Regions from separate parts of the Homo sapiens genome. Here all the other regions are linked to region 1. Evidence: fine-mapped expression QTL. A gene starts in region 1. Each other region holds a variant in brackets. All regions are shown on one strand. Distances are between the middles of the regions.

Region 1 (5,808 bases):
CATCAGTCCAAATTGTGTGGGTGGACAGTTCCACCCCGTCTAAACAAACTTAGCATGTAGAGTCAACACCGCTGCTATTTCCCTGTTTTGAGAAATGCTAAAGTAAAACTGAATAAATTGGAGCGAAACACATCCTTAACTGGAGTAGAACAAAAATAATAAAATATAATGGCTCCAAAGTTACATTTAGCTCTCACTTATACATTGTTTGGCCCACACTATGTTTTTGTAAAGTTTTGGCTTAGTTGCTAATATTTAGAATTTGAGAAGTTTCTAATAAAAACTGGATTCCCAACTTCTCTCTTGAAGTGATGCTGGCACAATTGGGCTTGAATTCTAGCATGCTAACAACTAGGTTCTGAAGAGTCTCTCTTACCCCATTGCCTTACTCCTTACTTCACCTGCTGGCCCCACTGGGGTTTCAACTCTCATTTTACACATGAGAAAACTGAGGCTCAGAGTGGTCAACAGCCTTGCCCAACAGCAGAGTTTCTCTGTGAAGGGAGCCATGTTGGTGCACATTGCCCGATTATCAGTGAACGTTGTGATTCCTTTTTCTACAAGATGAAGGCACATTTCATTATTTTACTGGCATATTTTCTCTCTAACCCAGCAGGTACACTGGAAATGATAATCCTGAAAACTTGTTAATGAAAGACTTACTTCAAGTGATGAGAAAAACAATACAAATGGATTAATTTCAGCAAGAAGTCACCAAGATTTGGCCAAACTCAAAACAGAAAAGTTTACATGTAAAAATAACAAAGGAATGTAACAACAGAATTGAAAATGGTATAACTAGAGTTTGCATGGTCCCCAAGCATTACTTTTTCAGGCTGATCCTCACATAAGTACAATTCTTCCACCCCTTCCCAATCTCATTCCTGTTCTTCTAAATTCAGAAACATGTGCAAACCCTGCTCTGGATCTCTTCTCCAGGCTTCCCCACAACACACATTTCCTTTAGGATTTTGCTTTTTTGGATTTATTTGTCCTGGTTAAAGCTGGTAGATAATCCCCACTGAGTTTTATCTATCATGCCTAGTAGCATTTAAATACCTGGTCTGGGAATTCCTAATGTATGCAAAGTGCATTTTTGTTAGAACCAGCTACACAAACAGATTACATAGATTACAAATGTCCTTTAGAATGTGAAACAGTGAATAATCTAAATGTAAACTGATAGGGAAATGGTTCAATTAACTTTGGCATATTGTGAAATACTGTGCAACAAAGCAAAAAGAAAAACAGGAGGATCTTAAATACTGACATGGACTGGTCTACAGGTTGCAAAGGAATACAGCACAGTATCATTTATGTTAAAAGGCCAACAAAAACATACATATATGTTTGTGGGTTCATATGTGTGTGTGTAAATTCATGGACAATGTTTGGAAAACTACATGAAATATGAAAGTGGTGAAAGTGGACACCTCTTGGAAGACAAGGAAATGGGGAGAGGTATGGGGGGTGTCAGAGAGGGCTTTAGTTTCACCTATAATGTCTGCAATGTCTTCATTTAATTTAAATAGGAAAAACATATAGAACCTATATGTGACCATAGGTTCTAAAATTCTTTTCATGTAACATATATAAATATTTATGTGACCGTTAATTTCCAATCATAATCTCAATGATAACATTTGTAAAAACATCTGCTCATCCTTGGAAATGAAATTTCCTATGCCACGTTATCACCCAAATCAACTTTTTAAAGTGTAAAAATAACAAGTATCTGAAAAGTTAAAGTTTACTTTCACAAGGTAAAATCAAGTGAGTCAACTCTAGGAGGCACAATCGTTTTGAGGACAATCAATTTCTATTTAATGGCAAAGAATAAGAAATATGGGATGGATTTAAATAAATCCAGTTTCACTCAAATTCCAAGTCAAAAATCAAATCAAAGTGTCAGATTGCTTAAATGATTCTAACCTGAGTTCGATTTCTAAGGTGCTCTTAATTTTTCAGTGATAGCATTTGCTTTTCCCAACAATAGCAAAGGAAAACTGGAGGGCAAGTTTTGCAAGGAAGAAACTGAGCCCCAGAGAGGTCAGGGTTTAGTGTGACGTCCCAGCTAGGAAGTGGCGGCTGGGACTCCCTGCAGGTGTCTCCTGCCAGCCCTCTGTGCGCTGGGCCAAGCTGCTTGATTTGATTCACCAGCGTGACACCGTGCATCTCCACATCCGGTGTTCTCACGTATCATCCCTGGCGATTATCTATGTGTCTATTTTTTAATTTACTGACCTCTGGAGGCCTGTCCCCGCCATCCCTGACTCCTAGGCACTGGACAAGCCCCCTCCTCGCCTCTTCCCCCAGCCCCGCGCATTCCACCTGTTCCGGGGCATCCCCGCTTGCTCCCTTCCGCTCGCTGCCTGTCCCGGGACCTGCGTGAAGCCCTCAGCCTCGCCACTAGCCCGGCAGCCGCTCCACTACCGCGCCGCTGCGGGTGGGGCCAGCGCGTCCCCCGGACGCGTGGAGGAGGGATGGAAGTGCGGGGGTGGGGGTCGCGCAGCCCCCACTCACCTTGCTGGCTGCGGGCGCCGCCGCCAGGAGCACCAGCAGGAGCGGCAGCAGGAGCACCTGCGGCCTGGGGGCGGTCCGGGCGCTCATGGTGGGCGCGCGCTCAGAGCCTGGGCGAGTCCGGGGACCCTCAGGCTCTCAGGCCACCGCGTCTCCTGCGCAGCGCGGCTCTGGGAGCCCGGCTGGAAAGCTCGCCTCGCCACTCGGCCGGGGCGGGTTTTGTAGGGCTCGGTCGCGCGGTTCGTCCCTCCCCACCCAGGCTTTTTGGTTGTGGCTTCAAGGGAGGGAAGACGTGGCTCAGGTCCCGCCCTCATACCCCCTCCCTCCCAACTTACCAGGCAGTGTCCCTTCTACCCGGGCATCGTGCCCAGGAGGCGAGAAAGGGCTGGGCGCCTGAGGGGCAGGTGGGCGCGGATCCAGGGTAAGGGGTTAAGGAGGTGATGCTCCCAAGGTCCGGGGGCCCAGGCGGGGAAGTGGGGTGCGGTCGGAGGTGGGGCGTTTGGGGGTGTGCGGTGGGGAGGTGGCTGCGCGGTGGGGAGGTGGCTGCGCAGGGTGGAGGGAGTGGCCAGCGGCCCTGCCCAGATTAAGCGGGAGGCGCGCCGGGCGTCTGCACTCGGGAGGCCCCGCTTGTTCCCCGCGCCCGCGGCGGTCCGCGTTCCCCGCCTCCAGCCCGCCTCCAACTTGCGGCCGCCGGGCTTGGCTGCGAGAGCGCCGCGAAGAGGCAGCGGGGCGCGGGTGGATTGGGGCTGGAGGTGCGCGTCCCGTGGGGTGGCAAGGCGGCAGCTCCTGGCGCTGCGGGCGTCCCCACAGGTAAGGCGCCCATAGGTGGGGCAACCGCTGTCCCGGGGCCCCGGCACCTGCCTGGGAGGGGCAGTGGAGGGAGCGTGGCATTCAAGGGGTGGTGGCGGGCCCAGCTGGGGAGTTGTGGCCCGGGGGTCACCAGAGGAGAGCGCGTCTGGCTCCTGGGCTTGTCTGCCTGGGCTTTAACTGGGTGCTGTGTGTTTTGATTAATTTGGAGGCTCGAGTTACCGGCCTGGCAGTCGGGGCACTCCAAAATGCCAAGAGAAAGAGGCAGCTGAGGAGAAAGAGAAAGCCCATCTTATTCTCCGCTGAGTTGAACTGCTTTTCAGGCCAAATCTTATCTGCGGAAATGCAGGGCAAAACAAGACTCAGCTCTGGTCAGGGTGCGCTCTTCCTGGGGGTGGCCTGCGATGCAAATGTGCCAGGGCACGGTCCTCCAGCCGGCTCTCGCCGTTTCCTGTGCTACGGACCACACTGGCTCTGGTAAAGCAATTAGACTGTTTCTCAGAAGAATGTTGTGAAATGCATAAAATACAATTAAATCAGAATCAGTTTTATTGGAATGCAATTATGGAAGTCCTCAAGTCGTGATATAGTAACTAACACAGGTGCATCATCATTATTGCATTAAATAGCTTGATTTAACAGCAGGCCGATTAAGCAACAGTAATGTCAAAGTAGTGATGTCTGCAAATGGTATTTTGAGATAATAGCCCAAACTGAAATGTGACATGAAAATACCGGTGGGTGCAAATTATCAAGAACTGCCAATACTACTGTGCTCTGTTGCCTGTGCTCATAAGGGAAGGACATGTTGAACTTCTGTGACATGTTACTAAAAGTAAAGATGCAACTTATTTTCCTATGTGAGTTTCCTATACAGATCACCTGAATTCCATCCTCAGGTTAAGAATCTTTGCTTTGGAACAGTGTTGCTGATATTTGCTGCAATTGGCTTCAGACACCAAGTATGATCATGCAGTTGGTCACTGATTTTAGGGAACCACTTGCTTGCAGTTAAATTTGGGATCTATTGGTATCTTAGAACTTTGTAGCCATGCAGGTAGGCAAAACCCTAACAGTGAATGAAGACACTCCTCCCATTCTTTTTATTTTGACTATAGCATGAATCTTACAGTCTTCTTTCTGTCTTTTATGCCAGTGATTCTCAACTATCGTTGTGCATTAGAATCTTTGGGAGGATAAAACAATGTTGCTACCCAGACCATTCCAAGCCAATTTTATCAGACTCTCTAGCTGTTTTAAAATTTCCTGTACATTCCCATGCACAATCAAGTATGAGAGCTCCTGTTTTCACGAACATGTGAAAATTTCACGCACATGTTGAATTAGGATATATTCTTAGTAGAATAATAAAAAGCACATATATTAAACTCTTCATTACAACTTGGGAACACTGCGGAATTTATGACCATATCGCAGATGTTGCTGTGTGGTATGCAGTAGCTTCTTTCCATTGGTAGGGAAGGTTCTTCTGGAAACTTCTGCCACTCTTGTGGAATGAAACGGTAGGTGTTCTGTTGATGAGGTGACAGTGTCCAAGAGTTCTGAGAGTCACATGATTATGTTTCACAAACTGACAGTATTTAATTTTAAAAAGTACAAACAAAAAAATCTCAATGCTAATGTTAAATGCTTCTCTTTGCCAAATTCCAGAAGATTCCTCAATTTGAATTTTAATTGCCTTTTCCTGAAACCAAGTCATTTTGTTGGAGGACTAGACTTGGTTTTATCAATTTTGGAACAGGAAGTAATAGTCAACTGCAAGTCATTTCTGTTGCAGATACAGAGCTGGAAAGAAACTTGTGATGTAAATACAGCAAGAAAGAGGCAATGCTGGAGAGCTTGACCTCTGGAGTAGACTCTGGAGTTTTGAATCCTTTCCATACTTACTAGTGTGACCTAACCTCTCTGGGCTGGAGTCTTCCTTCTATAAAATAGACATACTCACCATACCCACCTCAGGGAGTTGTTGGAATCTAATGAGATAGCAAAAACCCTTTGTGCAGAATCTTCACACAGTAGTCACATAGTGAAATTTGATTCTTTTTTTTTTTTTGTACAAAGGAAAATAGGTGGCCCTGATGAGAAATGGTGGCACGTGGTAGAGATGCTCTTCTGAGCTCAGTACTAAAATGGCTGGAGGCAAGCATAGCCTATGAACTCCCTTGAGGTTAATACACTTCCAAGGCCTCTAGAACCTTGCCTTGGCATCCCTTGGGACCAGCAGCATTGGCCTCCCTGGGAGCTTGCTGGAAATGTAGAGTCTCTGGTCTCACTCTGGATCCACTGAATCAGATCCCACATTCACCAAGATCTCCAGGTGATTCGTATGCACCTGGTACTTAAAACTCTGAGAAGTTGCTTATCTAAAAGCCACATTTAACCACCTATTCCCCACCTGCCACATTTAGAACAATGTTTGACAGGCTCACCTGTCAAACAAACAGGTGGTGTTAATTAACT
Region 2 (5,808 bases), 44 kb before region 1:
GCACCACTGCACTCCAGCCTGGGCGACAGAGTGAGACTCTGTCTCAAACAAAAATGAAAACAAAAACAAAAACAAAAAAACTACAGCTTTATAACTAACATGGAAGATGAAAACGAACACACGTACACTGAAAAAGTAAGTCACAACAAATGCATGCAGTATGATTCCATTTATATAGAGTTCCCCCCAAACAGGTGAAACTAATATATGTATATATATTTTTGTTTGTTTGGGAATAAGTATTTATGGGGAGACACGGCAAAGAAAAATAAGAAAATAGGTAACATAAAAGTCTGAATTGCATTTGGTGGTGGGGTGGCTGTGAGAAGGGAATGCAGTTGTGGTAGATTACACTGGAGTTATACTGCTTATGTTCTTTATCTTAACGCATATGTGTGCACCTGCGTGCATGCTTGCATGCGTGCTGTGTACATGTGTACTTGGGTGTTTATTTTGCATTCTTTTTTTCTTTTTGAGATGGAGTCTCACTCTGTCACCCAGGCTGGTGTGCAGTGGTTCGGTCTCGGCTCTCTGCAACCTCCGCCTCCCAGGTTCAAACAATTCTCCTGTCTCAGCCTCCTGAGTAGCTGGGACTACAGGTGCGTGCCACCACACTTGGCTAATTTTTTATTTTTAGTAGAGATGGGGTTTCACCATGTTGGCCAGGCTGGTCTTGAACTTCTGACCTCAGGTGATCTGCCTGCGTTGGCATCCCAAAGTGCTGGGATTACAGGTATGAGCCACCATGCCCAGCCTATTTTGTATTCTTTACACTGTGCATATATAATATGTACATCATTTCATGGATGATTGTACTTTATAATGTAGGATAGCTTTGCAATGCTTGTTAAAGGCACCTACAAAGATGCTTTGGAGCCTCTGTCCTGTTTCTGCAACAATATTTAACATCAGTTAAGGTTTGGTTCAACAATGTCCCAAAGGTAAACTCATAAATAACACAGATAGCTTTTACTACATGCCTGGCACTGTATTAAGAACTTTACTTACAGGAACTCATTAGATCTTTACAATCTTATAAGTGTGTTGTATTATTATTCCCAATTTACAGACAAGAAAGCTAAGCAACTTGCCTAACATCCCAATTACCCAGTTCATTCCATCAGGCATTTGAGAGTTGGTCAGAACATATCCATATAAAAAGAAACTGAACAGGACAGAGTAAAGGTCCCATCTTTTTTGTTTGTTTGTTTGTTTGTTTTTGAGATGGAGTTTTGCTCTTATTGCCCAGGCTGGAGCGCAATGGCACGATCTCAGCTCACTGCAACCTCCGCCTCCCAGGTTCAAGTGATTCTCCTGCATCAACCTCCAGAGTAGCTGGAATTACAGGCACCTACCACCACACCCAGCTAATTTTTTTGTATTTTTAGTAGAGATGGGGTTTCACCATATTGGCCAGGCTGGTCTCGAACTCCTGATTTCAGGTGATCTACCCACCTCAGCCTCCCAAAGTGCTGGGATTACAGGTGTGAGTCACTGTGCCCAGCCTAGGTCCCATCTTTTAATGTTCTAACACAGAGGAGGTGGAGTTCCCAGAAGATTCGGACACAGAGGCTTCACAGAAGAGATGGGGCTAGTACTGCGTTAACAGAGATAGCAGGATTCAAAACAAGGAATCCGTTGGGGAAGATATACCAGGCAGGGAGGATGACAAGCAAAGTCCAGAAGTAAAAGGTTCAGGCCTGCTGAGGACCTAAGGCCACTGGGCCAGTCTGGCTGGAGTGAAGGGAGCAAGAAGGGATGTTCTAGATGGTCCACTGGAAAAGCAGATGCATCTGAATTGGACCATCTAGAACCAGCTGGACGCAACATAGGCCACATACTCTTAGGGAATCCCCAAGATTATCCTGGGATGACCTTTCAAGTACCCCTGTTTGGAACAGGAATTAACATTGTGCTGGTGATGTATGACCATGGTTGGCAGAGCCACTTTTTCTCAAGTCATGTTTTGTGTCGTTCAGAAACATCTGGCTTAGGCAAAAAATGAGGTTCCAAAAGTTTGTTTGTAATGCTTCCCTTTCCTTCTGCTTTCCCTTGGGAATTCCTCAACTTGTATTCTCTTCCTGTTCTTTCTTCCTTCTTTCTCTTGCCATTTAAGATAAAAATTCCATGAAAACTTTAGGAAAATTTTAACATATTTGAAATATTTGCACACAGCATAATTTTGTTTCTCTCCCTCCTCTTTCTTTGTTTTTTGCTCCTCTTTCTAGAACTTTGTACTTACCTCCTTCTGTATATATGTGTGTGTGTGTGTGTGTGTGTGTGTGTGTGTGTGTGTGTAACCAACCGCCTAATGGGTTCACCTTTCTTGCTGCCTAGACAGAACTGATTTATCAAGACAGGGGAACTGCAATGGAGAAAGAGTAATTCACGCAGAGCCGGCTGTGCAGGAGACGGAATATTCATCATTACTCAACTCAGTCTCCCCGAACATTTGGGGATCAGAGTTTTTAAAGATAGTTTGGCGGGTAGGGGCTTGGGAAGTGGGGAGAGCTGACTGGTCAGGTTGGAGATGGAATCTTCATGGGTCGGAGTTAGGTTTTCTTAATGTCTTCTGTTCCTGAGTGCATTGGTACAACTGGGTTGGACCAGATTACAGGTCTGGGTGGGGTTAGCTGATCCATTGAGTGCAGGGTCTACAAAATGTCTCAAGCACTGATCTTAGGTTTTACAATAATGATGTTACCCCCAGGAGCAATTTGGGGAGGTTCGGACTCTTGAAGCCAGAAGCCGCATGACCCTGAAACTGTAATTTCTCATCTTGTAGCTAATTTGTTAGTCCTGCAAAGGCAAACTGGTCCCCAGGCAAGAAGGGGGTCTTTTTGGGAAAGGGCTGTTATCAATTTTGTTTCAGAGTCAAACCATGAACTGAATTCCTTCCCAAAGTCAGTTCGGCCTATGCCCAGGAATGAACAAGGACAGCTTAAGGGTTAGAAGCAAAATAGAGTTGGTTAAGTTAGATTTATTTCACTGTCATAATTTCCTCAGTTATAATTTTGCAAAGGTGGTTTCGTGTGTGTGGGGGGGCGGGGGGAGAGAGTAACCAATACTCCAATTTTTCTAAGAGGAGAATGCATTACTATTTTTTAATTATTTTTCTTCTCTTTTCTCCATTTCTCCCTATTCCCCACTTCCTACTTAGCCCCTTCAATTATAACCTTTTACCTCCCCTTCACCAGACACTCCCTACAGGGCAAGTTTATCCAACTATGGGCTTAGAAGCTCCAGAGCAGAACTCTCCCCCACCAGGGGACTGCTTTGAGAGATAACACTCAATTTACAATCCAAAGTATGCCTGCTGTGAAACTCTGTCTCACCTGGAGAGCTTTTGGCCACATTTACAACCTATTTCTGCCCATGAAGACACCAGCTCCAATGCCCGGTAGATAAGGCACCAAAGTGCGTATGTGAACCCCTAACTAGTCACTTCTGCCCCTGCAAACCCCCCTGCCCTTTAAAGCACCTGCTTTCTGCTCCAAAAGTGAAGCAGTATCCTTAAGGTGGGAAGCCTGTACTGTACTCCTTCCCGTAAGCTAGGTTTAGAATAAAAAGTCACTTTAATTATACCAAACCACACTCTTGTTAACTGGACTCTGCAAGCAGTGGGCCACTGAACCTGTGTTTCGGCTACGAGAGAGAGGAGGGAGAATGTAGGGAAATAAACAAGAA[G/A]TGAAGAAGAAATAAATATTTGGAAGATATATTTATTTTTATGTTATACTAAAATGCATTTTTTTAGTGTGTGTTTTATTTTTAATTTGGTGACTAGGTATTCCATTTCTGTGGGGTTACTAACTTTCTTGGTTGTTTTCCTAGAACTCTTTTTCTAAGGCACAGATAAGTTCTCTTAGTTTAGAAACCTGGAATGAAAGGCAAGAGATGACGAGTGGAAAGGGATAGGGTTGCCTTTTCTGGGCTCTGGCTTGGAGGGTAGGACAGGGCCCCCTCATTCACAGACCTGCTCTTCCTAGCCCAGGACTCAGGATTTCCTCTGGAGTACATATCAGAGCCCTCCTCTTCCATTCCAGGGTGTCTCCTGGGCTTCCTCTTAACCACAAAAGTGGTGACACAGTGCAAGTATGCAGTGCAAGTGCTTTGTAGCAGTTAGGGGTCTGGGTTTGAATCTCTGTTCCATTACTTTCTAGATGAGCAAACAAACCTGAGTTTCAATTTCTTCATCTAGAAAATGGGGTGATGATAAAGAATACTTCCTTATGGGTTGGTATGAGGCTTAGCTAAGACATGTAAACCTGCATACGAGTGTGTGTCAGTGATTTTCGTCGTTATTGCTACCCTGTGATCAAGCCCAAGCTTCTCCAACCTCCACGTGCATACAAATCACCTGTGAGTCTTTTTAAGACACAGATTCGGACTCATTAGGTCTGGGGCAGGGCTTGAGAGTCTGCATTTCTGACAAGTTCTCAGGTGTTACATACCTCTTGGTATGAGGTCACGGGCCGCATTTGGAAGGATCCAGCCATTTCCTCCTACTCTTCAGTGTTCCCACACTAACTCACTTTTTGCTGCTCAGCTGGCTCTCTTCCTGCTGTCCTTCCTTCCCTCTCCTCAGTTCCCACCTGAGCCTATCAAAATCTCATTCGATCTTCAGAACCAAAGTCTAAGATGATTTTTCAATTTTTCCGAGAACCTCCTTGCACATTAGAATCACCTGAGGGGGCGGGGCACAGTGGCTCAGGCCTGTAATCCCAGCACTACGGGAGACCAAGGCAGGTGGATCACTTGAGGTCAGGAGTTGAGACCAGCCTGGCCAACATGGTGAAACCCTGTCTCTACTAAGAATACAAAAATTAGCCGGGTGTGGTGGCGGGTGCCTGTAATCCCAGCTACTTGGCAGGCTGAGGGAGGAGAGTTGCTTGAACCTGCTTGGTGGAGGCTGCAGTGAGCTGAGATCGCACCACTGCACTTCAGCCTGGGCAACAGAGTGAGACTCCATCTCGAAAAAAAAAATCACCTGGGGGAACTCTTAAAAACCCTAATGCCCAGGCTACACCCCAGACGTGTTGAATCAAAACCCCAGTCATCAGTATTTTTGCAAGTTTCCCAGATGATTTTCCTTGTAGAGTCCAGGGTGAGAACCATTGCCCTAAAGCCTCAGCTAAGCTGCTCTTGATCTCCCCAGATACAATGCATCAACTTGCCAAGACACTGCTCTTACGACATTTGGCATCATGCTGCTTTATTTAGTGGCATGGGCCCTTGTCTTTTTATACCTAAGAAACCAGAAGTTCCTTGAAAGTGGAGACTGTCTTAATAATATTTAAAGCTCAGGAAATGTTTAAGAGAGTATTTTGAACTTAGTCGATTTCAAAAAAAAAAATATTTGTTGAATTAAGTTGTATAGTCATATGGGTTTTAAGCATTGTGGGAAGGAATGTAATACTATTATTGATAAATATTTTTGAAGTTATTTACTTGTTTCCATGTTATTTTAATTTAATCAATAATAATTTTAGCTATAAATATTATCAAGAAAATGCTTACATGTCTGGGATCATGTACAATTATAAAAATAATTTCTAATATAAAATATTCATTCTATAACTATGAGATACTATAGAAGCATTGTATGTCTCAATGCATTGAAAGCAAATTCTCCTATGTTATAAACATATCACAATGTTTGTACCTTGCAGAGATTGGCAATCTGGAACAATATATTATTATTGATCTTTATCAAAAGTTAATTTATTTTATTTGATAGAATATCGTATATACACTATTTCATATACAACCTAATATTTTGAAATATGTGTACATAATAGGGTAGCCAAA
Region 3 (5,808 bases), 37 kb before region 1:
TCCAGCTAGGCAATTGTTGGCTAATAGGATTAAGCTAAGACAGAGGCATTCAGAAGGAAAATGCCAACAAGGAATTCTGTTAGCCTGTCTTTAGAATCCCAGACAATCTGTCCTGCTTCAGCCATCATTTGCACGGGTCCCTTCGTATATGGTGGAGTCTAACCCTGAGCATCATCAGAAAGTTTAAGCAATGTTTGTGAGAGTCACTGGCAGAACTATAGTAAAGGATAAGTGTGAAGCCTAAAAAGAGAAGAAAAAATAGTGAGAACATAAGATAGAGAAAGAGAAAAAAATAGAAGGAAATGAAGAAAAGAGCAATAGAAGCAGTACCAGGTGGCAGCTAAAAGTAGCAGCTTAGATTTATTGAATGCTCATGTGACAGACATTGTTCTAAGTACATTATTTCTAATAACTTATTTAATCCTTATTGCATATTACAAATGAGAAAATTGAGGCACAGAAAGACTAGGTAATTTTCTTAAAGTCACCCGGCTAGTAAATGGTGGATCTTGGATTCTTGGAGTTGAATCCAGGTAATTTAGGTCTACTACGAATTATTAAGATGCCACTTAATATTAGTGCTGTTCATTTAATGTCAGCACCATACTATAAAGGTTCTTACCATTTTTTCCACTTCTGCATCCTCAGGTTCTATCTAGGCTGAATGTTAGTCAATGAATATTTATTAAGCCCTGGTACTGGTCTGGGAGCTGGGAATCCAGCAATTGACATTAGACAAAATTCTCATGCTTAAGAGGCTTATATTTTAGGGGAATGGGCTTGATATGTGGCAAATATTTTTGGAATATTATTGCTGAAAATAAAACTAGGAGATAATAAATGACTTTGCTACTGTAGTGTATATATATACACACATATATGTATATATACACATATATACACACATATATGTATATATACACATATATACACACATATATGTATATATACACATATATACACACATATATGTATATATACACATATATACACACATATATGTATATATACACATATATACACACATATATGTATATATACACATATATACACACATATATGTATATATACACATATATACACACATATATGTATATATACACATATATACACACATATATGTATATATACACATATATACACACATATATGTATATATACACATATACACACATATGTATACACATATATACACACATATATGTATGTATACACATATACACACATATATGTATGTATACACATATATGTATGTATACACATATATACACATATATGTATGTATACACATATATGTATATATACACATATATACACATATATGTATGTATACACATATATGTATATATACACATATATACACATATATGTATATATACACATATATACACATATATGTATATATACATATATGTATATATACACATATATACACATATATGTGTGTATATACACATATATGTATATATACACACATATACACATATATACACATATATGTATATATACACATATATACACATATATGTATATATACACATATATACACATATATGTATATATACACATATATACACATATATACACATATATGTATATATACACATATATACACATATATGTATATATACACATATATACACATATATGTATATATACACATATATACACATATGTATATATACACATATATACACATATATGTATATATACACATATATACACATATATACACATATATGTATATATACACATATATACACATATATACACATATGTATATATACACATATATGTATATATACACATATGTATATATACACATAGATACACATATATGTATATATACACATATTATATATATACACATGTGTATATATATGTGATATATATATATATATATATATATATTTTTTTTTTTTAGAGACGGATTCTCGCACTTTCTCCCAGGCCGGACTGCAGTGGCGCTATCTCGGCTCACTGCAAGCTCTGCCTCCCGGGTTCACACCATTCTCCTGCCTCAGCCTCCCGAGTAGCTGGGACTACAGGTGCCCGCCACCGCGCCCGGCTAATTTTTTGTAGAGACGGGGTTTCACCGTGTTAGCCAAGATGGTCTCGATCTCCTGACCTAGTGATCCGCCCGCCTCGGCCTCCCAAAGTGCTGGGATTACAGGAGAGAGCCACCGCGCCCGGCTAGTATTAATATATTTTAAAAAAATACCCGCATACCAGCATTATCAGTTCACTCCAGTTAGTAAACTTTGGATACTAAAATAAGACAGGCATG[A/T]TTATTTAGGGCTTCAAGAAACACCTATAGTTGGAAATGGTAACATTTGTTAGGAAGAACAATGAAACATGAAAAAAGGCATGGGGACAGCCACAAGGAAAATACAGACAAGTGTAAATTACATAGCTCTCCGAATACAGGTGAATTGCATACCACAGGCAAGCTAGAACTGGTGTGCTCTAATATTGACACCCTACAATGTTACAACACATTCAAAACATCAAGTTCTAATGAACCCGTACTTAATAGTATAAAATAGCAAGAATATATTCTGGAAGGGAATTCTGCACCTGGATTTTTGTGTTGCTAACCAATCGTGAAATCAAACTGCTAAACAGGGCTTAGTGTACTGGAAAATCATTTGAAGTCCTTTTACCAGCATTCAGGTTAATGGTTAAAGGTTGGTATTTAAAGTGTGCTATAGTTTCCATTTAATACTTTAGTTAATAATACATCATTCCATGGTGTTTGAAAAATACATCAAAACAAGTAATGGCAAACTAGACCAGTGCTTCATTTGGGATCAGGAGGTGCTTAGAAAAAAATTAATCTGGCTATCCATTTCCAATAGACAAGAGTAATTAATTTCAATAGGAGAAACACATACAGTTGCAATGCTTGAGTCCCATAGATGGTTTTAAATCTCTCGTTCCATTCAGAATCCTTTCTGTTTTACAGTTGAAAAGGATTTGGTAGTTTCTGATTGGTGTCTATAGTGACATCAGGTATTTCTCAGTTTTTAGAATGAACTACTTGTTTCTCTAAACACACGACCCCACACCTTGGATTTCACAGTCTATTGAAATAAGGTCAACTGGAAACGGATACATTGCTACTATTCTTCTAACGTCAACTGGAAACGGATACAGTGCTACTATTCTTCTTTCTGCGTCTTCAGACCTTAACAAAAACCTTTGACTGAGACGACAGTGGCAAATACAATGTAAGCCTGGGATGTGACAAATTTGCCTTTTCTACCCAACATGTGTTGGGCTTTTGCATTTTGCTTTTTGATTCCACCTAACTATGTCAACTCCTATTAAACTACTGTTAACATTTTAACAACAGAGGAATTTTTTTTTCCTCCTTAGTGGAAAAGTTTCAAAACTATTCATGAACTTGTAAATAAGACCGTTTTTCTCACAGAAAATCTCCTCTTGCTTTTTACACAGATGCTAAGTAAATACTGTCCAGCTTTTACTATCTTGATTCTTTCTTCTTGAGCTGATTAGCTGTAAAAAGAGAGTCATTAAGGTAACATAACCTAATAAGAATAAATGTATTTGTTAACACAAAACTTTTTAAAGATACTTAAGGCATGTCATTATTACATTAAAATTAAATGTGAATAATATAATTTCTAATCTAAACTTAATTTAAGAAGAACACTTCTTCCCATGTTCTTGAATGTTTAAACATTTTCATAATAACATTTTGGAATAAATGCAAAGCAAAACCAAACAAAACATAAGCAGAGAGTTGAGGAGATCTGACATTTGTAATTGAACATTTCATTGTAATTGAACATGTAATTGTTCAATTGTAATTGTACATGCAATTGAACATGTAAATGAAGCCATAAACTTTAATGTAAATTAACATCATGTTACTTATGACAGAAACAAGTTTACAAGTACAAATCACAGAGAACTAAGATGCTTGCTTTTGGAGTCTGTGCATAAGTTTCTAGAATTTGCAATTGAGACCCAAAACATTTTAGCCCTGCTTGTACTGCTGAAGAGTCAGCTATGAATGGCTTTGTGAGTCTGAGCAGATTTTTGAGTCCTGCCTCCAATGCACACTAGAAACATGCACCAGCGCCTTCCTTGTTTTCTAAAATAGGGCAACTATTACATCTATATGCATTCTTTAGGCATCGACTATGTGCTATGGCTGTACTTGGGACAATGGAAAATTTGTGTGGGCTGGCCTTATGCAGAACAGAAGTGAGATGAGAGCCAATAATTGAACAATCAAGAGTTGAAACTCTGTGTAGAACCAGCATGACGTGGGATGATGGGGAAGAGTGTGGTGCTTTGGGTTGCTGGCACCCAGGAAAAACTTTGTGAATACAGTGGATGTTCAAGAATGTTCTAATGGAAAATCAGTGTAGATTAAAGGAAAAAAGTCCCTTCTTCGAATTGTATCTACACATACACACTATGTAAAGATACAAACTTCGTTCCTGTTCTTTTCCATCTACATCGAGATCACAAAAAGAAATATCATAAGATGGTGGGGTGACAGTCAGGCTCTGCTAGCATTCAGCTGTGCACCTGGGAAAAGCTTCAGTCTTTCTGGTCTTCAGTTTTCTTAGATTGGACAAAGCTATCTCTATGTTTTTTCCTACTTCTAGCTTTCTGTGATTAGGTCAAACCATACATGTCTACAGAATGTGGTACCTTCTAGACTGTGAGTAAACATGCAATATAATTTATGAGTTAACATATATAAAGATAAGCTCTTGCTGCAGCCTTCCTATTAACATTGGGAGGCACGATCCATCCTTCGGACTAGTTTTTTGTTTGTTTGTTTGTTTTTACATTTTTATATGCACAAGAACTATGCATGTTAAAAGCACAAACCCTTCTGAACTTGCCCTTCTCCCAACAACCTGTCTTCATTCTGATTCACTGAATTGGGGCTGGGGCCACAGATATGAATGTTTAGTCTGGGCTGGGCCCAAGAATCTCAATATTTAAGATCTTAGGTGATTCCGATGCCTGTGGGTTATGGACGACAATGCAGAAACACTAAAGTAAGGGATTAATCCTGACCTTGGGTCATTTCTCAAGCTGAAGACTTTCAGGGACTTTAGGAAAATTTCAAATCAATCTCTTTGGAATGCTTCAGATTAGAGACAAATCCCTTAGGTCTGTTTGATCCAGTCTTAGTTGCAGACTGAATGAGCCGAAGTGAACTACAACAGGGCATTGATTACCTGGTTATATTTAAATCTCTAAAATACTTATTTTCTAGGATGATAGTATGCCAGGGGCAAGAATTTTCAGAGGTAAAGATTGCCAAGTAGTATCAGAGATAGAAATGACCCAATCCTGGGGGAGGAATGGGGGTGAAATAGACAAGGAAATTCATGACTAACTCTGCTATAAAACTACTGAGGTTGCAATTACACAGGTAAATCCTCCGGAAGAAAGTGGAATTTTTCTTGTGATAAACATCTCACTCAAAGGCCCCTTGCCATGCTTACCAACCTTGACTTACTGGTAATATGTTCCTCTGAGCCTAACCTGAATTTTTTCATTCCTCAATTCAGTTTGCTCCTAATCTGTCCTTAGGAGTGAGAACAGCTGTTACTCTGCACTGGAAAATAAGTCCCACGTCCCTTGCCCTAATTCCTGTGACTCCGCAGGGCCATCTCAGTTGCTGCCATTTCTAATTCATTCACCTCCCTTTCCAGCCATCCTTCACTTCATCCTGCCTCTAAAAGGATCTTCTTAAGTACAAATCTCTGTTGATTCCCTGCTAAAAACCCTATACTGCTTCCCCATTGCCTTCAA

Alleles and levels. Alleles are on the strand shown, and positions count from the first base shown. SD is a standard deviation of normalised expression in the study named. Not every link is listed here.
As copies of G replace A in region 2, the expression in pituitary of the gene that starts at base 2,713 in region 1 goes up (small effect, 0.32 SD a copy in GTEx).

What was found. PIP is the estimated chance that this variant, and not a neighbour inherited with it, causes the effect. A credible set is the group of variants that fine-mapping cannot tell apart.
Region 2: its variant is the best candidate, but not a certain one, in a credible set for the expression of COL4A3 in pituitary (GTEx, PIP 0.78).
Region 3: its variant is the best candidate, but not a certain one, in a credible set for the expression of COL4A3 in pancreas (GTEx, PIP 0.69).

The regions. Positions count from the first base shown.
Region 1 is chr2:227,161,529-227,167,336 of GRCh38, reverse strand. It overlaps COL4A3 (collagen type IV alpha 3 chain), which reads right to left and starts at 2,713. Exons shown (of 52, transcript NM_000091.5): 1 at 2,524-2,713. The coding sequence starts at 2,610. COL4A4 (collagen type IV alpha 4 chain) reads left to right here and starts at 3,132. Exons shown (of 48, transcript NM_000092.5): 1 at 3,132-3,330. RefSeq lists silencers at 2,480-2,659, 2,880-3,259 and enhancers at 3,530-3,629, 2,904-3,805.
Region 2 is chr2:227,205,256-227,211,063 of GRCh38, reverse strand. All of the region lies in intron 1 of COL4A3 (collagen type IV alpha 3 chain), which reads right to left. Among named protein-coding and RNA genes, the nearest start is that of COL4A3, 44 kb to the right of the region's middle. The variant G/A (reference allele first, on the strand shown) is at 3,688.
Region 3 is chr2:227,198,850-227,204,657 of GRCh38, reverse strand. The region is part of intron 1 of COL4A3 (collagen type IV alpha 3 chain); the gene reads right to left. Among named protein-coding and RNA genes, the nearest start is that of COL4A3, 37 kb to the right of the region's middle. The variant A/T (reference allele first, on the strand shown) is at 2,288.